Homo sapiens: one gene and its partners. The protein of the gene in region 6 interacts with the protein of the main gene of each other region in a biochemical or structural test. Each region holds a gene or a part of one and is shown on either strand. Other genes may lie near its edges. The genes, in order: KCNJ12, SLC34A1, GNG4, SLC17A1, HDAC7, SYNJ2BP and CSPG4.

The links.
Region 1: the proteins of SYNJ2BP (region 6) and KCNJ12 interact in a test that uses a peptide from one of them, tested with the Homo sapiens proteins (one large-scale study listed by IntAct).
Region 2: the proteins of SYNJ2BP (region 6) and SLC34A1 interact in a test that uses a peptide from one of them, tested with the Homo sapiens proteins (one large-scale study listed by IntAct).
Region 3: the proteins of SYNJ2BP (region 6) and GNG4 interact in a test that uses a peptide from one of them, tested with the Homo sapiens proteins (one large-scale study listed by IntAct).
Region 4: the proteins of SYNJ2BP (region 6) and SLC17A1 interact in a test that uses a peptide from one of them, tested with the Homo sapiens proteins (one large-scale study listed by IntAct).
Region 5: the proteins of SYNJ2BP (region 6) and HDAC7 interact in a test that uses a peptide from one of them, tested with the Homo sapiens proteins (one large-scale study listed by IntAct).
Region 7: the proteins of SYNJ2BP (region 6) and CSPG4 interact in a test that uses a peptide from one of them, tested with the Homo sapiens proteins (one large-scale study listed by IntAct).

Annotation. Positions count from the first base shown.
Region 1 is NC_000017.11:21,382,857-21,386,356, reverse strand, and holds part of KCNJ12 (ATP-sensitive inward rectifier potassium channel 12), read right to left. Parts: intron 1-3,500. UniProt on the Homo sapiens protein: Inward rectifying potassium channel that probably participates in controlling the resting membrane potential in electrically excitable cells. Probably participates in establishing action potential waveform and excitability of neuronal and muscle tissues.
Region 2 is NC_000005.10:177,383,162-177,387,233, reverse strand, and holds the start of SLC34A1 (sodium-dependent phosphate transport protein 2A), read right to left. Parts: upstream 2,801-4,072; 5' UTR 2,747-2,800; intron 1,540-2,746; 5' UTR 1,493-1,539; coding exon 1,384-1,492; intron 1,248-1,383; coding exon 1,098-1,247; intron 1,014-1,097; coding exon 885-1,013; intron 812-884; coding exon 668-811; intron 1-667.
Region 3 is NC_000001.11:235,548,785-235,552,284, forward strand, and holds part of GNG4 (guanine nucleotide-binding protein G(I)/G(S)/G(O) subunit gamma-4), read right to left. Parts: intron 3,454-3,500; coding exon 3,325-3,453; 3' UTR 1-3,324. UniProt on the Homo sapiens protein: Guanine nucleotide-binding proteins (G proteins) are involved as a modulator or transducer in various transmembrane signaling systems.
Region 4 is NC_000006.12:25,784,734-25,787,052, forward strand, and holds part of SLC17A1 (sodium-dependent phosphate transport protein 1), read right to left. Parts: intron 1-2,319. UniProt on the Homo sapiens protein: Important for the resorption of phosphate by the kidney. May be involved in actively transporting phosphate into cells via Na(+) cotransport in the renal brush border membrane. Plays a role in urate transport in the kidney.
Region 5 is NC_000012.12:47,809,904-47,813,403, forward strand, and holds part of HDAC7 (histone deacetylase 7), read right to left. Parts: exon of another isoform or gene 3,178-3,500; coding exon of another isoform or gene 3,027-3,177; intron 1,051-3,026; exon of another isoform or gene 1,032-1,050; intron 1-1,031. UniProt on the Homo sapiens protein: Responsible for the deacetylation of lysine residues on the N-terminal part of the core histones (H2A, H2B, H3 and H4).
Region 6 is NC_000014.9:70,369,045-70,372,090, forward strand, and holds part of SYNJ2BP (synaptojanin-2-binding protein), read right to left. Parts: 3' UTR 1-3,046. UniProt on the Homo sapiens protein: Regulates endocytosis of activin type 2 receptor kinases through the Ral/RALBP1-dependent pathway and may be involved in suppression of activin-induced signal transduction.
Region 7 is NC_000015.10:75,702,849-75,706,348, forward strand, and holds part of CSPG4 (chondroitin sulfate proteoglycan 4 precursor), read right to left. Parts: intron 1-3,500. UniProt on the Homo sapiens protein: Proteoglycan playing a role in cell proliferation and migration which stimulates endothelial cells motility during microvascular morphogenesis. May also inhibit neurite outgrowth and growth cone collapse during axon regeneration.

The DNA of each region.
Region 1 (3,500 bases), on a different chromosome or scaffold from region 6:
AACAGAAAGAGTGAGAGAGAGGAGAGGGAGAGGCAGCACAGGGAGAGGAGACCATGTGAAGACAAGAGGCAGAGACTGGAGATGCCCACAAGCCAAGGAATGCCAGGACCGCCAGAAGCCCCAGAAGTTGGGGGAAAGCCCCAGAATGGCTTCTCCCTCAGAGGCTCCGCGAGGAACCAGCCCTGCAGACACCGGTTTCAGACGTCTGGCCTCCAGAACGGATGCTGCATTTGTACTGTTTTAGGCCACCCAGTCTGTTATGGTGGCAGCAGCAGGAAACCAACACAGGGTCTCACTGGCTTGCCGCCCTCTGATCCCTGCCTCGGCTTTCTTTACTGGACCTGGTTGGTGGTGCTGCCAGACTCCTGCCCCAGTGCTCCTTCCACACCCCAGATGCAATGGTAGGCGTGTGGGTTTGCCCAACCCACTTTCTCTAGTGTTCCCATTTCACAGGGGAGGACACTGAGGCTCCCAGGGTTCCTGCTCCCCACCCACTGTCCTCCCAGTCTCCTCTCTATTACCTGCCTTTGATCTGGGGCATCCCCACCCAGCGGCAGCTGGTCCTAAGGCCACCAAGAGCCTGGTCATGAGCCCTGGTGCTGCAGAGTCAGGGCATCTACCGTGGGATGGAGGCCAGGACCCATGAGTGGCCTGGAGGCTGTGCTGGCAGGGCCCAGGCCAGCCTCCACCCTGCAGAGGAAAAGAGGAGGGCAGCGGGGTCTCCTCTGTTACACAACCCCCAGGGAGGGCCGGGGCCACTCCACGGCTACCTCCTGGGGCACTGCCTCCAGTGGTCTTCAAGGCTCCCAGGGCCTGGGGAGGGACCTGGCCGCTCTGACTGGGCAGGTGCTGCTGACAGCTTGCAGCCCAGCAGGCCGGGGTGATGGCAGGGCCGAGCCTCCGGCCACACAGCAGAATAGGGATCAAGGAGGCCAGGAAGCTGCCCTGTCTTGCCTGCAGTGCCCAAGCCCAGAGGGAAGGAGAGAACAGATGCCCAGACACGAGAATGGACTGCCTCCCCATTTCACAAACATGGAAAGTGAGGCTCATAAAAGAAGGGCACCAGGTATATCTGATCCCCACAGACACTGAGACAGATACTGAGAGTGACCACAGACTAGTCACTCTCCCAATCAGTGTAGCAGATCCTTTCTAATAAGGGGCCCTGGTGGAGTAAGGTGGGACCACCCTGATGCATCTCAGGCCAGGTTCCAAGGAATGACAAGGATGGGACAGGCACTGAGATGCGGAAGCTTGGAGACAGGTCAAAGTGACATTCCTGGGTCGGGCACGGTGGCTCACGCCTGTAATCCCAGCACTTTGGGAGGCTGAGGCGGGCGGATCACGAGGTCAGGAGATCGAGACCATCCTGGCTAACACGGTGAAACCCCGTCTCTACTAAAAATACAAAAAAAAATTAGCCGGGCGCGGTGGTGGGTGCCTATAGTCCCAGCTACTCGGGAGGCTGAGGCAGGAGAATGGCGTGAACCCGGGAGGCGGAGATTGCAGTGAGCTGAGATCGCGCCATTGCACTCCAGCCTGGGCGACAGAGTGAGACTCCGTCTCAAAACAAAAAAAAAAAAAAACAAACAAACAACAACAAAAAAAAAAACAAAGTGACATTCCCCACACAGAGGCCTGCCCCAGCCTGAAGACAGTGAGGGAACAAGTGATCCTGTTTCTAGGAGGTCAGGGCTAAGGGAAGAAGAGAGGCTAAAGGAAGAAGGACCCCAGTGGGAGCAGCAATGAGCGCCTCCCCTCCGAGCTCCAGCGTGTCTACTCTGCCCTGAGTGGGAGCCAGGTTCACCCAGAGGTCCCAAAGCCCCAGGCTGCGACTCTGAAGCCCCCCAGACCCTCTGAGCTCTGGGGATGGAGGCAGGGGATCTGGATTATCCCAACTCCCAGAGGGATGTGACGAAGGAGGCACCCAGGCGAGGACTCGGTACCTCTCCTGGTACTTAAACCAAATCCTGCAATCCAGGATCTCTGTCTCAACGCAGCTAAAATGACAACGAAAAGAACCCATGACTCACGGACTTCGGTGGCTCTGTGCATTCAGATGCCACAAAGATCCTACAGTCCCAAGACTCAGCCCTCAATCCATGCCCAGGACGACAGGATGAGACCCCCTGGGTCCAGTGGGCACGGGCACCACACAGCAGTGCGCATAGTGCAGGGGACGCCATGACATGTATGCAATGGTCCCATACGAATTTAAAAAAAGGCAACTTAGATATTAGCACGTTTCTATGCCTCCATTTACTTATTCACGTCTGCATAAGCACTGAGAAACCCAGAAGCCTCTCTAATGATGGTCACCCCAAGGACAAGAAACTCTGGGGGTGGGGGAGGCAGGGGGTGAGGAGGAGAAATTCACTTTTCCCCTTACAACTGTTTATCACTTTACTGTGAGCACATAACACTCTTATAATTAAAAACTGTTATATTCAACAAAATATGACAATGCCCGTGATGGCTCATGTGTTTTTTGTCTATTTCATCCTGCCCCACCCACTGAGATGTCAGCCCCCCAGGGCAGGGGTCTTGTGCAGGCCACATCCCCAGCCACCTGCTGAGCTCAGGAATGAGGCCAAAATCCTGCATCCTCAAAGCTCACCACGCAAATACCTGACCTCTAGGACCTCTAGGATTCTCTGAGAAGGGAAAGGAGGGGATGGAAAGAAAGGGACATCCAGGGGACAGGCTGGGGGTGGCTTGTGATTGGGGATCCCCAGGGCCAAACAGGTGGCTGTGACCCCTGAGTTTGCCCCTCCCAGGCCCTATTTCCACAAGACCCAAGACTGTCAGAAGCCCCACTTTTGAGCATCCCCAACCTGCCCCAGATCCCAGCACCCCTGGAAGCCCCAGGTCTCCATCTGCCTCTGCCCTCCCTGTGATCATGCCAGGACCCGCCCCCTCCGGCCACGCCAAGCTCCCCTGGACCCTCTCTGGCCTCGGCGCCCCCCAGCCCTGAATGGAAGCCTGGCTTGGCCCGGAACCAGGAGCCCCGAGGCAGAGGGTCGGGGCGGGGTTGGCTCGGCTGCTGCCACACAGAACGCCAGCTGCTGGCAGCGATTTATTTTTGCTTTAAGTGCTGGAGAATTGCAGGCCTGGAGCCGCCAGCTCGGGCCCGGCTGCAGCTGGAGCAAGCGGGGCGGGCAGGGGCAAGGGCACACCTCCGGCCACCAGGCCACTCCATCCCCCTTGACCTCTCCTGCCCCCGGCCTTTCATCCTCTCTATCATACACATCTCAGTCTCCACATGCTCCCTTCTCCCCGGCCCCTCCCCTGCCAAGTCCCCAAAAGCTGCCTGGAAGCATCAGGGACAGAGGGTCTGTGGCCTCAAGGCTGCGCCCCAGCCTTCCTCCGGGAACTGTGTGACCTCCGGCTGTGGGGACCCTCTCTGGCCTCAGGCTGCCCGCTCCCACAGTGGAGGTGTCACGTCGCACCCTCCTGTACACCCTTGGGGTGGAGGCAGGGAGGGCTGAGAAGTATCCCTG
Region 2 (4,072 bases), on a different chromosome or scaffold from region 6:
TTTGTTGTTTTTTTTTTTTGTATTTTTAGTAGAGACAGGGTTTCACCGTGTTAGCCAGGGTGGTCTCGATCTACTGACCTCGTGATCTGCCCCCCTCAGCCTCCCAAAGTGCTGGGATTACAGGCATGAGCCACTGCGCCCGGCCAGTGATGGTTAGTTTTATGTGTCAACTTAGCTAGGCTGTGGTACCCAGTTATTCAACCCAACACTAGCCTGGGTGTTCTGTAAGGTGTTTTGTAGATGCAATTCACGTCTACAGTCAGCTGACTTTAAGAAAAGGAGATTATCCTTGGTAACCTGGGTCAGCCTAATCCAATAGAATGAAAGGCCTCAAGCAGAACTGAGGCTTCCCTGAGAAAGGAGAAACGCTGCCCTGTCTGGACTGCAGTGTCGGCGCCCACCTGAGAGTTCCCGCCTGCCCTTCCAATGCCCTGGCCTACGGATTCCTGACTTGCCCAGACAAACTACCATCGGGGAAGCCAGTTCCTTGCCATAAATCATCTGGGTCACATACAGCTACAGTTGGGCTCCTCTCATGTCCCTGGCTGATACAGGAGTCAAGCTGAATGGAGGCCAGCCTTACTGGGGTCACGCTCCCCATTTGCCACCCTTCCCAGCTCCTGGGGTGCCCCTCCAAGCTCTTCCCCACCCTGGTGGGCCAACTCACAGCCAGAGGAGACCATGCTGACGATGATGGATGTGGAGGTGCTGGAGCTCTGCACCAGCACGGTCACCAGGATCCCCACCACCAGCCCGGCCACCGGGTTGGACAGGATGGCGTTATCCTTGAAGATGTCACCAGCCACCTTCCCTGGGGAGCATGAGCCAGCGTTGTCCAAGGCCCTTCAGGAACCCCTCCCAGGTCTCCTCCACCCGGGCCCTACCTCCAGCCAGCTGGAAGGCCGAGCTGAGCATGTCCAGGGAGCAGACGAAGAGGTAGAGGAAGGTGAGCATCAGTGGCACCTTGAGCAGCATGGCGCCAGCCTGGCGCAGCTTGGGGACCAGCCTGGACTCTGGATGGGGGAAGCCATGAGCATAGTGGGCAGAGGCCAGGGCAGGGACTGCTGCCGCCTCTGCCACCCCCAGCCCAGGCCCACCTGGCTTCTGCTCCTCCTCCAGGGCCAGCTTGGCAGGCAGTGGTTCATGGCGCTCCAGGACCTCCCCACAGGGGCAGGTGTGCTCAGCAAGGGCCACAGGGCCCAGGCTGGGGAAGGCATAGGCAGAGGTCCCCGGGATCCTGTGTAGGACTAGGGAGGGAGCCTGGTCAGGAGCCCCAGGGCCCCAAAGTGGGGAGGCGGGGAGGAACAGGCGGGGGAAGTGGCCTCATCCGGGATGTGGGCAACCGTGGGCAACCAGGGTCCAGGGTGTGGGAGCAGCACTTACCCTGAGGGCTGGGCACGTAGGCAAAGGCCGTCCCTCGCATCACATGCCCCCCACGGACTGGGAGTGGGGAGACAGCAGGGGACCCCAGCCTCTCTCCGTAGGACAACATCCTGGGCACCCACTATGAGGTCTGCAGGTCAGTGGGTCTCAGCAACGCTGAATGACAATAGCTGTGTCCGGGACACTCATGCCCACACACCCTCACCTGCACAAACCCCCATGGCGCATGATTCCAAATACACACCTAGCAAAGCACACCCTCCATCCTCACCACACACACACACCCCTCCGAGACTCACACGCACAAACACACACCCAGCAAACCACACCCTCCATCATCACCACCACAGCCCTCCGAGACTCACATGCAGACTCACATGTGCACATCTGTGCTGGGCACCTGCATGTGAGTCTCGGAGGGGTGTGTGTGGTGGTGGTGAGGTGATCATTCATTCACCATTCACTCATTCAATGAGTATTATTGAGCTCTAGCCCAGGCTCCGAACCAGAGGCTTGGATATAGCATTGATAAAAGACACTGAGAACTGAGGACGCCCAGCCTGTTTGGGGCTGGAGGGGGCCAGGGAATACGTGGTGTTGGCAGTGGCTGCAGGTGTGGGCTGGGGCTGGGCCGGGCTTCAGTTTTGCCCACCTGGAGAGCAAGGAGGAGCTGCAGACACCTGCCTTCTCATGGGGTCAGCTGGGCACACACGGAGATCCCCTGGGCCGGATCCCGAGTTCCTGGGTTCCCCTCACAATGAATTCCTTTCCCCATCCACCCCCTCAAGGGGCAATGAACAAACACTGACAGGCTTGCCTCAGCCCCCCCTTGTCCCCGCACTGCCCCAGGAGTCTTGGCTATTGGGGTGGAGTGCCCTGATCTGCCTCAGCACTCCCCGCATTGTCCCAGCGTCCTTGGCTGTTGTAGGGGTGTGAAGAGTTGAATTCAAGTCCTGAAGGAGCAGGAGTCCTTTTTTTTTTTTTTTTTGAGATGGAGTTTCACTCTTACCGCCCAGGCTGGAGTGCAGTGGCACAATCTTGGCTCACTGCAACCTCTGCCTCGTGGGTTCAAGCGATTCTCCTGCCTCAGCCTCCCAAGTAGCTGGGATTACAGGTGCCTGCCACCACACCTGGCTAATTTTTTGTATTTTTAGTGCAAACTCGACCTCAGGTGATCCGCCCACTCGGCTTCCCAAAGTGCTGGGATTACAGGTGGGAGCCACCGCGATTGGCTGGACTGACATGTTATATGGGGCGCGGTGGGGGTGGGCGCAGATAGGACACAGATGAAGGGGCTGGGGTGCTGGGCTGTTTCCTACTCAGAGCTGGGGGTGGGGTTGGGATGTGAGGGTCCTGGGCTCACCTTAGAATTCTGTGTTTCAGCTTCTGCTCAGCAGCTCAATGAAGCCTCCAGGACCCTGAGGAGAACTGAGACCCTCCTCTTTATACTCTTGGGTCAAGGGCAAAGTCCCTGGAACCCTAGCTGCCCTCCCTCTGTCCCCCAATTAACCTCACCCCTGAGATTCCTCCCAGTTAATTGCTAATCGTCAGCTCTGCATGGGGAATCTATGGTCAGGTTCTTCCCATCAACCACGACCCAGACACATCCCCCGCCTGCAGGCAGAGACCCTGATGCCACTCAGCACCTTGTTCCCAGGGTCCCCTCGTTCCTGGCCTGACAGGACTCCCCAGGGAATGACCCAAACATCCTATGGCCTTCGGAGGTTGCAGTGAGCCAAGATCGTGCCACTGCACTCCAGCCTGGGTGACAGAGTGAGACTGTCTCAGAAAAACCAAACCAAACCAAACAAAAACATCCTATGGCCTTGCCAAGCGTCGGGGTGTCTGTAAGTCTCCCAGGGGGAGCTCAGAGGAGAGGGAGTGTGAGATGAGGACCTAAGCTGGAAAGGCCGTGGAATGTTGAATCGTGGCAGGTCTCTAATGCCCGACCATGGGTCCAGGATGTGAGTCTGAGTGAATGTGGAGCCGCTGGCCAGACTGGGATGGGCCTGATCTGCCTTTTAGAATGGCCCCCGGGGTGGAACCCGGATATATGGAAGGGAGCCTGGAAGCGGAGGGGCCAGTTAAGAGGCTAATGGTCCAGGCAGGAGATGATGAGGCCTGAACTCCGATGGGAACGGAGGGGCTGGGGAGGACAGGTGCATCCCAGGGACATCTGACCAGTAGAATTGGTGACGGGGAGGGAGAGAGGAAAAGGAAATAGATGGGAGTCGGGTCTCTGGATCTTTGGCTAGGGCTGGGTTCATGCCCAGGTAGGAGGGTGTCGCTGAGTCACGGAAATGCAATCAGTTCTCAGTTCTTGTGTCAGAATCTCTGGGTCCTTGGGCTTGAAGGTGCTGTTAATGTCACATCGAGTGTCTCCACCTATGAGCAAACTGACACCCCCACAGCGGGCCCAGAGACCCCGGCCCACGTGACCTGTTTCTCTCCATTCCCCCGTGCAGTTCAGACCCTTGGCAGGAGCAGCTGAATCCAAGGTGCTCCTGGTGAACTGGGGGTGTTTCTCCTTTTTAATAAGGTTGTGCTTTTTGATATTTTTGAAGTTTGCCTTCCCTGCTGTCACGGAGCTCTGGGTTTAGTGGGGGAGGCAGTTAGCTATCGATCAAATCCATCAAGAGATATAATTCCAAAATGCTGCTGATTTACACAGCCACCACTTCTAAAGATT
Region 3 (3,500 bases), on a different chromosome or scaffold from region 6:
TGCACTCCACAATGCAAGCAGGCTTTATTCCATTCATCTTCCACTGACAGAGTGGGGGAGCTCAGTGACATGTCTGTGGATCTCACAGCTCATGTGCAGAAATCTCCATCTAAGAAGAGGGAACTAGGCCAGGCGCGGTGGCTCATGCCTGTAATCCCAGCACTTTGGGAGGCCAAGGCGGGCGGATCACTTGAGGTCTGGGCTTCAAGACCAGCGTGGCCAACATGGTGAAACTCCGTCTCTACTAAAAATACAAAAATTAGCCGGGTGTGGTGGCGGGCGCCTGCAATCCCAGCTCCTCGTGAGGTTGAGGCACAAGAATCGCTTGAACCCAGGAGGCAGAGGTTGCAGTGAGCCAAGATTGCGCTACTGCACTCCAGCCTGGACGACAGAAAGAGACTCTGTCTCAAAAACAAAAACAAAAACAAAAAAAGAAGAGGCAGCTGGATTCAGGATCACTCTAGGAAGGGTGACCCGTCCCCAAATGCCATAGGTCTGGAAGAGGTGCAGTAAAAGGACAGAAAAGCATCTCACAGGGGAAGGTAAGGAAGAGAGGAGGAAAAGGAAAAGGAGAGAGAACAAAACGGAGGCTGAATCTGGAGGGACGGGGCATGTAAAAACAACAGGGAGAAGGTTTGGTGGAAGAGGAAAGCAGCATTTTTCTGACCTGATTTTGATGCTCTCTGTACGGCCCCGCTTTCTCGGCTTCTCTGATGTGCCTTTATGACTTGTGCTTCGCTTCATCGGGTTAATGATGTTGACGTGAAGCACAGAATAAAGAGATCCTGGTCATAACTGCACTATCAAAGGATCTGAGGTCCTAGCGTCACATCCAGCATACAATTCTGCTCTAGTTTGAGCATCTTAACAACACTGGTATTATTAGTGAGCTGATAATGAAACTAAGAATGAGTTTTAACAAAAGAAGCAAGGAACAAAGATGTCCTAAATCCATTTACGAGGGCAGCAAGTCATTAATTGGTCTGGAAATTACATTTGCCTCTTTGCAGGCAATTTTATGCCTCCAACGGAACCATGGTCTCTTTGAAGTCATCCATTCTTCCCTATATTATACCACGGCATTTAGTACATTTATTTGTTTTAAATGATAATCAGAGCTTTCATCTATGTAGCATCTCTGTTTCCTCCCAGACAGAAAGGCAGGATAATTACCATTAAACCCAATTTGCAGGTTAGAACATTTCAGGCACAAATGGCCTGTTCTCTATCACACAGCAAGTCTCTTTCAGAACTAGGGAGAGAGGCAGTTTCCAAATAAACAGAATAGAACAAACTTACACAAAGAGCTCTGCTCCCACTGTGTATTCTCCTCTTTCATCGGGATCATATGAGTTTGGTTTAGGTAGGACCTTCAGGTTGATCTTAGACAATCCAAGAGCTAATTCATCGATGTCTAGCCTTTCCTTGGGGCATCCATGAATCACCTTCCTTAAACTACCAGAATACGGCTTCCTCCTGGAGAATGTGGGAAGTGAAGTGTGCCACGGGTTACTGCAACAAAGGTGTTTGCTTCACGGTGTGCAGTTATGATAGTTTGTGGGTCTCCCTACCTGCAAACAGGTAGACCTGGAAGGTAGCACAGTTCAGGGGGCTAAGGGAACTCTGGGGCCGGGCTGCCTGCCCTCAAATCCCAGTTTTTCTGCTTACCATGTGTAACCTTGGGCAAACTACATAAACGCTTTGTGCCTCAGTTTCCCCTCACTCTAAGACATACGGCCGGGTGCACTGGCTCACACCTGCAATCCCAGCACTTTGGGAGGCCAAGGTGGGCAGATCACTCGAGGCCAGTAGTTGGAGACCAGCCTGGCCGACATGGTGAAACCCCGTCTCTACTAAAAATACAAAAATGAGCCAGGCATGTTGGCGTGTGCTTGTCATCCCAGCTACTAGGGAGGCTGAGACATGAGGATCACTTGAACCTGCGAGTGGAGGTTGCGGTGAGCTGAGATTGTGCCATTGCATTCCAGCCCGGGCGACAGAGCAAGACTCTGTCTCAAAAAGATAAATAAATAAAATAAAACAGACATGCACTTATGGTATTTATTGTTGGAAGATTGAGTACCTTAATGCACACCAATGCTCAGATGACTTGGGGGCACATAGGGGACTGCTGTCACCATGCCTCACTCCTGCAGGGAAGGGGCTGCCCTACTAAAACCCCAGCGGGCCCAGTGCTGTGTCCAGAACAGGTCCTTATATTACTGCAGCCCACAATGGAACTACTGAGTAGGAGCCAAAAGAGGAGGGAGCAGGAAGAGGTGGCATTTGGAGAGGGGAGACCGCACCCACAGGTCTGCCACAGCGCGTCAACGGTATGGGGTACTTTTACAGTCAAGTTGACTTCGGTGTCCGCCCACCATCTACCTTTGTAGGACCACTGAAACAAGGGACATCCACCACGGCCCACAGCCGGGGCGCCACGGCCCCAGGAGGATATGCTAAGAAAACCATTCCACGGCCGGGTGTGGTGGCTCACGCCTGTAATCCCAGCGCTTTGGGAGGCCGAGGCGGGTGGATCACGAGGTCAGGAGTTTGAGACCAGCCTGACCAACATGGTGAAACCCCGTCTTTACTAAAAATACAAAAAATTAGCTGGGTGTGGTGGCGCGTGCCTATGATCCCAGCTACTCAGGAGGCTGAGGCAGGAGAATCGCTTGAACCCAGGAGGTGGAGGTCGCAGTGAGCTGAGGTCACGCCATTGCACTCCAGCCTGGGTGACAGAGCGAGACTCCATCTCAAAACAACAACAACAACAAAAAAAAAACAAAAGAAAACCATTCCAATCCTGTGGGTTGTTGTCTTTTTACTAGGATGATGGAAATGCAGGAAATACAGAACCTCTGCAGCTGCTTTCTCCAGGAAAGGAGATGAAAACGTTATATGTTTCAGTTGGTCAAAATGCTCTAATTTGATACTGAATATTGCAAATAAGGGATATTTAGGCATAGTTTTTTTTTTAAAATAAATTATCCACTGAAATGTATTAATATGATATAAACTTGGAAACTGATGTTTAAAAATTTTAAACTCTTAAGTCCAGACTTACTTTTACATGGCACATTTGTTATTTGGCTATAAACATTTTGATTTTCTTTGCCAATAATGAAAATAACATGAAAATGAAAAGGAAAAAAATGAAATTGAATGCCACGAAGAAAACAGATGGAAACATAAGACAAGCCCCGGCCACTGTTGGCTGGGCAGGGATGGGTGTTGGTCTCACTCCCTAAGGCTTAGAGCATGCATGGTCTCTACAGGGGACTTTGAAGGTCAGAAAAGGAGGCGTTTTCATCACACACGGAGTTAGAGAATGGTACAAAAGAACTTCTTCTCGCGAAAGGGGTTTTCTGATGCAGGCACTGGAATGATGAGAGGATCTTCCCGCACGTGAGCTTCACAGTAGGCCAGGAGGTCCGCAGCTGCCTGGGAGACCTGTGAGGGCACAGAGCACAGGTGCTCAGTTAAAGGCCCCTTTGCAG
Region 4 (2,319 bases), on a different chromosome or scaffold from region 6:
GAGTCATACGGCTCTGAAACAGTTCAGGTTACATAAAAGTTAAAGCCTCAAGAGAGTGTAGATGAAGAAAGGCTTTGTAAGAATTTTAAAATATGTGTTTTCTCTCTAAGATCACGAACAAGACAAAGATGTCTACTCTAGCCACTTCTGCTCAACATTATACTAGGGGTTCTATACAGGGCAATTAGGCAAGGGAAATAAATAAAAGGAAACTAGATTGGAAAAACAGAAGTAAAACTATATCTTACAAATGATATAATCTTGCTTACAGAAATCCTAGGAAATCTACTAAAAATATTAGAACTAATGAGTTTAGCAAAGCTGCAGGACACAAGATCAATATACAAAAGTCAATTATATTTCTATACACTTGCAATGAGCCATCCAAAAATGAAACTAAGAAAACAATTCAATTTCAAGTAGCATAAAAAATAATAAAATACTTATAAATAAGTTTAACAAAAAGAGTACAAACTTATATTCGAAAACTTCAAAATATTGTAGAAAGAAATTAAAGAAGCTGTCTTAGCTAAGGCTGCTATAACAAAATACTATTACCTCACACTATTTTTAAAAACCATCTCAAAATGAATCAAAGACCTAAATGTAAGAGCTAAAACAATACAACTCTTAGAAGAAAACTTAGGGGTACATCTTCATGACCTTTGACTTGGCATTGATTACTTCTATATGACAACAAAGCCACAAGCAATAAAAGAAAAAATAGATAAATTAGACTTCATAAAAATCAAAAACTTTGCTTCAAACTTTGCATCAAAGGACATTAACAAGAAAGTAAAAAAAGACAACCTATAAAACGGGAGAAACAATTTGCAAATCACATATCTGATTCTTATCAGTCTAGTATTTAGAATATCCAATACACTCTTATAACCCAACATCAAAAGACAAATAATTAAAATGTGGGCAAACACACTGAATATATATATTTCTGTAAAAAAACAGAAGAATAGCCAATAAGCACATGAGAAGATGTTCAACATAATTACTTATTAGAGAAAAGCAAATCAAAACCATAATGAGATGCCACTTCACATTCACTGAGATGGCTACTGAAAAAAAAAGAAACATAACAAGTGTTGATGAGGATATGGAGAATTGGAATTCTACATTGCTGGTGAGAATGTAAAATAGTCTGATGCTGTGGAGAAGAGTTTGGCAGTCCCTCAAAACGTTAAACCTAGAATTACCACATGACCAGCAACTCCACTTGTAGGTATATACCCCACAAAATTGAAACATATCTTCACATAAAAACTTGTACACACAAATGCACATAGTGGTCTATTCACAGCAGCCAAAAGGTGTAAACAACTCAAATGCTCCTCAGTGGATTAATGTATAAACAAAATGTAGCATAGCCATACAGTCGAATACTACTGGGCCACAAAAAAAGAAGGAAGTATTGCTACGTGCTACGACATGAGTGAACTTTGAAAACATGTCAAGTGAAACAGGTCAGTCACAGACATATTATGTAATTTCATTTACATGAAATGTACAGAATAGGCAAATCAATATAGACAAATTATATCAATGGTTGCTTAGAGCCTAGTCTGTGTTTGGGTGGGCCCATGGGTCAGCTGTTGGCTTTCCTGAGGAATCTGGGAGTGAGGGGCTCTGATTTTCCACCCGAGGAACAAGGCAGAAAGACACTGACCACTGCATTTGAAGTGGACAAGACCTCTCCATTTTGTTGGACCAGAGGCTACATGCGTGTTTCCCATGGATTAGATGCAGGTCACAGAGGACTGATAGCCAGGCCCAAGGGACCACCTAGAAGGGAGAAGGGATATCCACAAAGGGAGATTTGTGTGGAGTGGATCTGTGATGCCAAGGAGATGGGCAGCTGGAAAAACCAAGTGCATTTCCTGCCTTGTCAGCCTCTTATGCATGAAGAAAAGGGTCTGCTTTCAACACCTACTGGCCCAGGGAGCATGTGGGCAACTGACAATGGGGCCAAACAAGCCAGAAATTTCCATGCCTGCTTCCCCTCCTTTCTCTCCTGGTCACACCTCAGGAGGGGTCAGAGGTGGGGTCAGCATCCTAGCGGATGAGGAGAAAAGCCAGACAGAAGAAAGTGCTCACACCCCTCTCCCTGAAGGAGAAGGTCCGCCTGCAGCTTTGTCCCAGCTGGAGACACAGGGAAGGAGTCTTGTATGTGTATGACATTTGACTAGCTAAATTCCATATTTAAATAAATATTTTCAGTTATCTAACTGGGAATGTATGCTTGCTATTTAAAGTGACCACAGTACTTTTTACTACCTAAGAGGGCTTAACAAGGAAATAAATAAA
Region 5 (3,500 bases), on a different chromosome or scaffold from region 6:
AGTCCTCACAACTCTGTAAGGCAGATACTGTTTTTTTGTTTGTTTGTTTTGTTTTGTTTTTGAGACAGAATTTCACTCTGTCACCCAGACTGGAGTGCAGTGGCACAATCTCAGCTGACTGCAACCTCTGCCTCCCGGATTCAAGTGATTCTCCTGCCTCAGCCTCCCAAGTAGCTGGGATTACAGGTGCAAGCCACCATGCCCAGCTAATTTTTGTATTTTGGTAGAGACGGTGTTTCACTATGTTGGCCAGGCTGGTCTCAAACTCCTGAACTCACTGAATCCACCCACCCTGGCCTCCCAAAGTGCTGGGATTACAGGCGTGAACCACTGCGCCCGGCCTATATACTGTTATTATTCTCATTTTGCAAATGAGGAAACTAAGGCTAAGAGAGGTTCAGAAACTTGCTGAGGTCACACAGATGGTATGTGGAGCTGCTGGGACTCCAGAACCTAAGCTTAGCATCGGTACACTGGCGTGGACTGCTTACTCAGCCTGCCTCCTAGTAGTGGCTGAGGTGAGACCACCAAGGGGACAAGGGGATGCAAGACACAGTGAGGCCCTAGGGTATGCTCCCAATGCCAGCCTGTTCCCACAAAGTGTGCTGTGTTCCACCCCTGCCATCCTCAATTCCTTTTTCATCTTCTATTTCCCTTCCTTTTTAAATGTACATTTTACCATTTTAAAGTGTACCATTTAAACACTTTACAGTGTTTCCTGTTAGCTGCCTCCAGCAGGGTATAACTAAACAAGCAAACCTCCCAGGGCTGCCACAGAGGATCAAACGCTGCGTGAGCTCTCTGGAAACTGTCAAGCCCTCTACAAAATGCGGGTTGCATAACCAGAGCAAGTCACCCTCAGAGTGGGTACTCGGGGGTAAATTCTCTTGGGAGGAAAAGGTCTCTCTCTCTCTCTCTCTCTCTCTCTCTCTCTCTCTCTCTCTATCTCTATCTCTGTCTCTCACTCACGGGCAGGCCTTGGGCAGGTGGAAGCGCTGGAAGCACCCACAAGTGCAAAAGGGAGCACCTACCTTCAGGGCCACTTTCTGGGGACTAGGAACACAGCCGCACGGCTATCAGCATCCCTGGATCTGGGGCAGAGGAAGGCAGAAGCCACAATGGAGACCCTGGTCTGCACTCAGTAAGAACCAGGCAAACCGAACTGAGGCATCTCGGATGTGAATAGCCACAAGCTGTGAATCCTGACACTCACAGGGATGCCACATTAACATTAATGACAGTAAATACCCTAGAGGTCCCATCCCAGTGGTGCCCTAGAATCCCCCTCCTTTTGCCTATTACTTTGGAAGACAGCAGAAGTCTAGTGGGCAGATTCTCCACGTGACCTGATTCCCTTTTGCAGCCAGGCTGCCCTTGAGACTTGGTTGAAGGGGTTTTTCCAGATCACAAATCCAGCTAGGGTGCTTACACTGCCTTCAGGTCACTCAACAGACAGATGGCATGGTCCTGGGTACTGATTTGGACAAACCAGCTGTAAGGACAATTTCTGGCCAACTGGGAATTCCGTTAAGATGAAAATTTACTGTAATGGAAGGTGGAAATCACTGACTGAAAAAACAGTATATGCAGAGTAATCTCATTTTCATAAAAATTACAACACATAAAGACACATACGGAAATGGAAAGATGTGCAGTGATCTCTGACTGATGCGTCTGTGATGTTTTTTATTTTTTAGTTTTTGCTGGTCTGTCCTGTCTGAGTATCCACAATGCACATGGACTGCCTCTGTAATAATTACGCAGCATATATACGTACATAGACACAGCCCATGGTAGCAAAGTCAAAGTGTGACCTCGGGCTCCCGTGAGCATTAGTCCACAGGGTTTTCACCGCCCCCGGGTCTTCTTGGACCATATATCCTCTGAGGTTCCGTGTTATCTACAACCTAGCGTCCTCTGCCCCTCCTGAGTCTCGCCAAGGGCCTATAACACAGAGCTGGGCACAAAGTCAGGACTTACTTAATGAATGCCTTCTGGCTGAATAATGATCATTTCCTGAAAGAAATGCCTCATGCCTCTTCCAGAGCCGCTGTGCTGGGAATACTCACTGCTGACATCACTGACCTGCCCACCCCTCCTCTGTTCTTCATAAGAGCAACAAGGGAAGGGCTAAAATAAAGTTCACCCCAGCAGATGCTGGCAAGGTACTCCACATCAGGGCCATCAGGGGCAGCCCCATCCCAGACCCTCCCCAAGCTGGCACAGCAGCCCCTCTCCAGGGCCAGCTGGCTTCAAGGCCCTGGGGTCCCTCCTCGCCCTGCCTCACTGGGAGAGGCTGGGAGAGGGAGTGAACAAGAGAAGCAGGGGTCCACCCTATGACTTCTGGCTACAGCTCTCTGGCTGTTCCAGGCCGCGATGGGTGGAGGAATCTGGAACAGGGATTTGGCCTGGTTTTTTCTGTGAACTGGGGCTAGGCCCAGTTTCTGTTCTTCGTGTCTGCAACATTCCCTATCCCTGACCTTCAAAAAATATGAACAATAACATTAATAATGATGATGAATATTCAGTGAGCCCTGACTTCATACCAGGCACAGAGCTAACTTTATTTACATTATCTCCTTTAATCTTCATAGCAACTCCATAAAGTTGAAACTGTAATTATTTTCACATTACAGATGAAGAAGTGGAGGCACAGAGCAAAATGTGCCCATAATCACACTTGCAGGAGAAACCGAGACTCAGCCAAGGCCATCCCATTCCTCCCTCTGCGTCCTTACAGGAAGCTCTCCTGCCAGGCTTTGCCATATATACAGTAGGGTCTAAGGCGATAATTAACATCTGTAGAGTGCTTTAAGCACTAAGTGGGGCACAGAGAAAAGCCCCACTTGAAACTAGGAAATCGAGTCTCAGAGCCATCAGCATCCTTACTCAAGATCCCACACCTTTCGACTAAGATTCAAACCCAGATCTCTGGCGTCAGAATGGCACATTTCTTCCCTATTATCACACGATGCCCCTGGCTCACTCTCAAGGCGGCCCCGGCTGCCTGGAAGGGAGAGTCACACCTCCTTCAGCGCTGGAATCTGGGGGGCGAGGCCTGCGCTCAGCCCCTCGCCCGGTGGGGGTGGGGTGCTGCGCCAGCACCTCCTCAGCGTCTCCGCCGTGACTCACTCCCGGGACCCAGGGGAAGCACAGCCCTGCGCTGCGGGCAAACATCGTCCGCCGCCCGCCCCGCCTCCAGCTCCCCGCCTCCACATTTGCTAACCGAAACAAGGCTGCTGCTATTTTTAACCCTCCAGCTCCCCCTTGCCTGGGGCTCCCCCCTTCACCTCCCCACCCCCCGCCCCAGCCGGGTGCCACCAGCCTGTCATTCTGAGAGCAGTTCTATAACCTGAACGCGCCTGGGAGGGCGCAGCGGACGTCCCGGACGTGCAGGTTTGTGGGGCAAGCAAAACAAGACGGTTACAGCCCAATCGCCGAATTCCCCCACCCCAGACTCTTTCCGAACCTGTCACTCCCAGACTGCCCTGCTCCTCCTG
Region 6 (3,046 bases):
TCAGAGTTTTTGATTCACTAGGTCTGGAACTTCTTTTTTCTCTTCTGGGAACTTGCTTTTTGTTTTTTGTTTGTTTGTTTTTTTGTTTTTGAGACAAGGTCTCACTCCGTTGCTCAGGCTAGAATGAAGTGGAGCAATCACGGCTCACTGCACCTCAGTCTCCTGGGCTCAAGCAATCCTCCCGTGTAGCTGGGCCTACAGGAATGCACCACTAATTTGTTTGACTTTTAGTAAAGACAGGGTTTCACCACATTGTGCAGGCTGGTCTCAAAACTCCTGAGCTCAAGTGACCCACCTGCCTAGGCCTCCTAGAGTGCTGGGATTACAGGCATGAGCCACCATGCCCAGCCTATGAACTTGCTTTTCTAACAAGTTCCCCAGTAACGCTGATGCTTTTGTCAGGACCTTGCTTTGAGAACCACTTCCAGTGAGAGAATATCATTGATGCTGGCATCTGAAGTCCTGAGTTTAAATCCTGATTCTATTATTACCACCTACATAATCCTAGTCAAGTAATTTTTTCTCTCATTTTTAGTCTCTTTGTGACAATACTTAGATCCCAGAGTTATGAGACATGAAATAATGTACCAATCAGAGTTTGGTACAGTCCCTGGCATAGAACACAATAACAAATATTAACTTCCTTTTTCCATTATACATGGCTAGATGGAACAATTAAGTTAAATCGATAACACATAAGTTGAAACTTCACAGGAAAACAAAGTACAGCTAGTTGAAGCAAACAATATCTTATAATTATACATGTAATACAGAATGATAGAGAAATGTTTTAAGTACTTAAAAATACCTTCGTTCAATTTTCAAAACTTTGAACGTAATAATTTAGGTAGTAGGAACATTAGATGCAATCTATAGAAGAAATATTAGACTCAATCTATGAAGAACATGAATTTTTTTACAACCTATAATGGATCCTGATACCTCATCTATAATTTTAGTTTTCTATAGAATCAATAATATAATTAGTGTACCTGCTTAAAACTGTATTACATTGATCTTCAATGCTACTTAATTTCTGAGAAAACCTAAGTTATAAGAGTACATCAGAATCTCTATTATCAACCAAAGCAAAACTTCTACCAACGACAGAATGGATACTTTTTAAACAAATTTACATATACCAACAAGCAAAAAACTAGAGCTTTCATTCCTGCTTGACATTTTTTTCACTTTGTGTGTCTCAAGGCTCTCTCAGGAATCAGTGTCCAAACCATGAGGTGAATCCTGGGAGGTAAGCAAGCTTGCTGTAGAAGCCGCTGTACATGCCTTCAGGAACAGAAAGGGTACCAGAGGCTGTGCCCTCCTAGTGTGGCTGGTTGGAGTGACAACTAGAATGTTGTCCGTGTTTTTCTGTGGAACCTACAATGAGTCCAGTTGTCTAAGTGAGTCTCAAAGGTATTGAATAGTTGATGTCAAAAGGCACTTTATGTCAGGACTGTTTAAAGCAAGTTTCTCCCTATACCAGTAGTGACCCAGAGGCAAGGTCTTACCGGACCTCTTATTTTCAAAAGCCTTCCCTTTCCAATTGAGCCTGATGCCATTATGTGACATCTTTTTTTCCCTGAATTTCTAAAAGAAAATGTGATGATTACCTGCATATCTTCTTTGTTGCTGCATCGTGTTTTGCATGGTACCCCTTTAATATTGTTTTCAATACTTAGCCTGCTGATATACTTTTAACTTCTCACCTGTTTATGAATTCTCTTAACTAGGCTGTGAGGCCCTTAAGGGTCTTCAACTTGTCCCTTTCCTCCACGTAACTTTCTCAAACGCCCCAGTTCTCAGTAACTTTTCTCTTTTGCTGTCTGTAATATAAACATGACCCCTACTTACACTGTCCTACCTATGTGGCCAATAAGAGTGTTGTCTTCGCAGTTGGAACCCAAAAGCCCTATGGGATGGAGGATATGCACTGTACTTCTTTGTAAAAGTGTCTTGACAAAGCTGATGTCCAATCAACATTTAATTACCAGACTGTCCAAGCTAGAAATGAAATACAGTTGATTGCCTGAGTCCTGATAATCTTGCTAACAAAATTATAAAAGGCCTATAGTATGGCCAATATATTTGGCTAATGGAAATGATTTTCTTAAAGCCAGAAAATTCAGCTACCCATAGTGCTTAAAACCAGCCTTAAAAGAACATGAACAGGATGGTTCCCACCTTATCGAGATCACTGGCATTCCATAGTATCCATTCATTCATATCCTCCTCCTAGGCCGCATGAAACACCTACCACATTTCCCTACCTCCTAAAGCAAACAAAACTCTTTTCCTCCCTCTTGCTGCAAAAAGGTTTATTAAAAGCCGTATGTAGTGTATAAAGCCTTTCAAAAATACTAGCAATCCATGCCTTTCTTTTTTTGAGATGGAGTCTTGCTCTGTAGCCCAGGCTGGAGTGCAGTGGCGTGATCTTGGCTCACTGCAACCTCCGTCTCCCAGGTCCTGGTTCAAACAGTTCTCCTGCCTCAGCCTCCTGAGTAGCTGGAATTACAGGAACGCGCCACCATGTCCAGGTAATTTTTGTATTTTCAGTAGACATGGGGTTTCACCATGTTGGCCAGGCTGGTCTTGAACTCCTGACCTTGTGATCTGCCTGCCTCGGCCTCCCAAAGTGCTGAGATGACAGGTGTGAGCCGCTGCACCCGGCCTCATTTTAACTAAATCTGAAGCCAGAGTTGATTTGATGCCCATCCTGCCAGGGAGGCAGTTCCTTCCCTCAGGTTTGTTAGTAGAAACCAAAAAGTAGCCTGAGAGGGTTCAGGTGCCACCTTGGAGGCACTACCTTATCTTTTGTCCTTTTAGAGTTTTCTTGCTGGGGTGTTTGGCTCCAGCACTATAGCCCTTACCACAATCATTCCACCTGGTTCTTCAATAGGACTCTGAGGTATCAAAAAAGTCACTAGGGCAGCCCAGAGATTGGTACGATTTACCTTTACACCTCAAAGTTTTTTAGATGTGAGCAGCGCTGGATTATGGCAATTTACCTTATAATAACTCACCATAGTTGGCTGTTATAAGAATA
Region 7 (3,500 bases), on a different chromosome or scaffold from region 6:
CCTGCTCTAGCATGGACTGGGAGGTGGGGCCATTCCCAGGCCCCCCTGCCCGCCTTTGTCAACCCCCAAGGAAGTGCCTGTGGGATCCTGACACTCCCTGGGACAGGATGTAGCCTGCACTTTGGGGCACGGGAGGACCTGGTGAGGGGAGCGGAACATTTCTCAGGATTGGTCCCTGGGGCCCAGAGTCCCTTGTGGGAATGGGAGGAGGTGAGGGTCTGTTATGTCTACTGAGAAGGCAGAGAGGGCCCTGGGGACGGGTGGGGTGCTGGCGGCAGGGAGCACTTCTGACTGCCGTGGAACCCGGTAAAGGAGAAGGGAAGGAGAACAGAGCAGGACTGGAGAGATGGGCAGACAGACAGAGAGACAGGGTAGGAAAGACAGACAGAAAGAGATGGAGGAACCACAGCCAGGGGTGGGAAAGGACAGAGAGATGGAGAGAGCGGGATGGGGGGATGGACTGAGAGATCGGGGGTGCTCTGCAGCCCGGGTGACCCTGCGCAGGGGCAGACAGAAGCCGTGAGGGGAGACTGAAGTGTGGCTTCCGTCCCATAGAGTCTTCATGGTGCTCCAGGCAGCGTGGTCAGAGTCCGGGTGGAGCCGGTGAGGAGGGAGGAAGCAGGCGTCTCTGTGGCCTCGCCCACCCCCAGCCTCCAGGGTCTAGGGGCTGGAGACCCTCCGTTCCCGGCAGTCTCCACGGGGAAGGCCCAGGCCTGTTGGAGGCAACGCAATGCGGTGGGGCAGAGCCCAGATTGACCTTGTCACCAAGATCCCCAAGGGCTGTCTTGGGCACGGCCGGGACCTTGAGGGACAGGTCTGGTCTCTGGCTTGTTATGGAGTGAGTTCCCTAGGCCTGGAGGGCTCACAAGCTAAGGCTATGGCCTGGACTCACACCTGCTGCCAGCCTCTACGCAGACCCCTCCCTTGGCTGCGCTTGTAGGGGCTGTGGGGTAACCGTAGCCTGGGGCATGTGTCATGGAGCCACAAGCAGTGACTCAGACAGTTAAAAAAGGAGCAGCTCTGAGTGGTGACTCAATTGGCTCTGGAGGGGCTGGGTGGGTCTGGCTGGTACAAGATGGGGTGGTCTGGGTTTATTTTTGGCAGGGCGGGGCTGGGGCCAGGGGGTGGAAGATGGGAGCCGGGGGTGGAGAGGAGCCGCTGCTCTCATCCCGGGGGGAGCCCCAGGGCTCCATGCCAACTTAGGAAAGTGGCTTTCCAATGCCAGGGAGTCCTGGCAGGCTGGGCTGCTTCTCAGCCCCATTCCAGGCCTAGCCTGCCTTGCTGCTTGGCCCAGGACAAGCAGCTGGCTCTCTCTAGATAGAGGCAGAGGCCCCTGTCCTGTTCCCAAGAGGCTCAAGCTCAGAATTTAGAGCTGACCTAGGAGACTGAAGATTCCACCCAGAGGCCCAGATAGGGCCAGGGGTCTCCCCAAGGCCACATAGCAGGGCCAGGTAGCCCAAGGGCTGTGGCACCATCAGCCAGCTGGCTCAGGCCTCTACAATATCTCGCTGGCCCCAGGGCTGTCCACGGTTGGAGGGACAGCCCCCGTCTGAGTACCCACCCCTGGAGGGGCTCAGCCAGGCTCCAGATGGGTGGCCAGAAGCACACGGGCCCCAGATGCCCAGAGATGGAACCTTGGCCAGGGGCAGCCACCTGGATTCCATTAAAACATGTGGGTGGGGGGCCTGGCCGGGCCCTGTCCAGGGGTCTGTGGAGAAGAGTCACCTCTACGTGGGTGAAGGCAGTGGGGGCCTGCACAATGGGATCTTGCCCTGAGGGCTCAGGCACAGGCCTGCCCTTGTCCGGGGTCCCTCCAGTGTCCCTGCCCCGAGCTGTGCACCCCACTCTGCAGTCACCTCAGTCACCTCCCCACACCTCCCCCTACTCTGAGCTCACATACACCCATACCACTGAGGGGTCCTAGCAGCCCAGAGCGGAGAGGGCTGTCCCCTCCCTCAGTCCGGATTTCTGCTCCTCGTGATGCAGCCACCACTGCTTATATCATGAGTGGTGGTAACAGCCCCATGGTGACTCTGGCAGGTGAGCTGTCCCACGTCCCTGGGCCCTGGCCTCCAGCCCCCACCTCCAGAGAGGGACTCGCGAGGGGTTGGTAGAGAGCAGGGAAAAGACAGGCTTCTAGGGTCCCCGTCCCATAAAAGGTCTTGGGGCCTGCTCATTCTCTTCTCCTCACTCACCTGCTCTGGGGACAGGGGGTTCCTGCTGTGCCCCGGCCCAGTGAGCCCCATCCTAGGGGCTGTTAGGCTTGGGAGAAACAGGCCCTGGGGAGGGCCAGGCAGGGGCTGTCCCCACTTCTTCTAGCACTGAGAGAGGGGTGTGGGCCTCAGCCCAGTTAGCCACAGAGATGCAGACCCCCACCCCCTCCCACCTTCTGAAGGGTCCTGGGCTGGCAGGCAGCCGCTGGCTGATACCCTCTCCAGAGCCCACCTCTCCTTTTCCATGTCACTTAGTCCCACACAGACTCACGGGGCCACCTCCTCTAGGCCTTTGCCTCGGAATCTTCCTTAAACACTCCTAAGCAGAAGTCCCCATGTTGCCGGGCCACTCCACCCTGGGAAGAAGATGCTAATAGCAGAGTGACTGCAGCTTCAGGAGCAGATGTCCACCGAGCATTGATTCCAGGCAAAGTGTCTTGCTTAATCCTTACAACACGTAAGAGGTTGGAATTATTTATCCCCATTTTAGAGAGGAGAAAACTGAGGCTCAGAAAGACAGAGTCACTTGCCCAAGGTCATGCATAGAGCGTCAGGGCTGGAATTCAACCTGAGCTCTCTAATGCCGTGTTTCACCACCATGTGCCTGGCCTCCTGCTTCCCTGTGTGGGTTCCCACAGCTCAGGACTCAGAGGAGGGAGAGATGGGGCCTGGGTCAGGGCTGAGGGGCAGGGGAGGGGCTCCCTCTCAGCTGCTCGCAGACTCCCAAAAAGGGTGATTTGCTCCTCCTTGACCAGGGTGGGAAGTAAAAGTGTGTGTGTGTATCTGTGTCTGTATGTGTCTGTGTGCATATGTGTGTGTCTGTGCCTGTGTGTATATGTCTGTGTGCGTGTGTGTGTGCGTATGTGTGTCTGTGTGCATGTGTCTGTGTCTGTATGTCTGTGTGTATCTATGTCTGTGTGTGCCTGTGTGCGTATGTCTGTGTCTCTGTGTGTGTGTGGCTAGGCCTCAGGCCTGCCTGGCTGGACTCTAGCTGCAGGAGAGCTGGTCTGGCCCCAGCAACTGTGCACAGGGAAGGGGCAGGGAGAAGCGGGTGTCGTGGGAATCAGTGTCCTGGTCCCACTGGTATTTATAGCTGCCCCTTCCTGAAATGTGGGTGGGGGAAGGGGCTGCTCTTAGGTGGGAACGGAAGTTCGTCTCCTCTCCCCAGCCCCCTCTGTCTCCCCAGAGAGTGGACTGGCCCAGGCCAGAGGGCCTGCCCTGGCGGGGGAACGAGGCACTGTGTCCTGATTTTGGGGGTTTTCCCTGGGGCTGCTGGCTCGGGGCAGG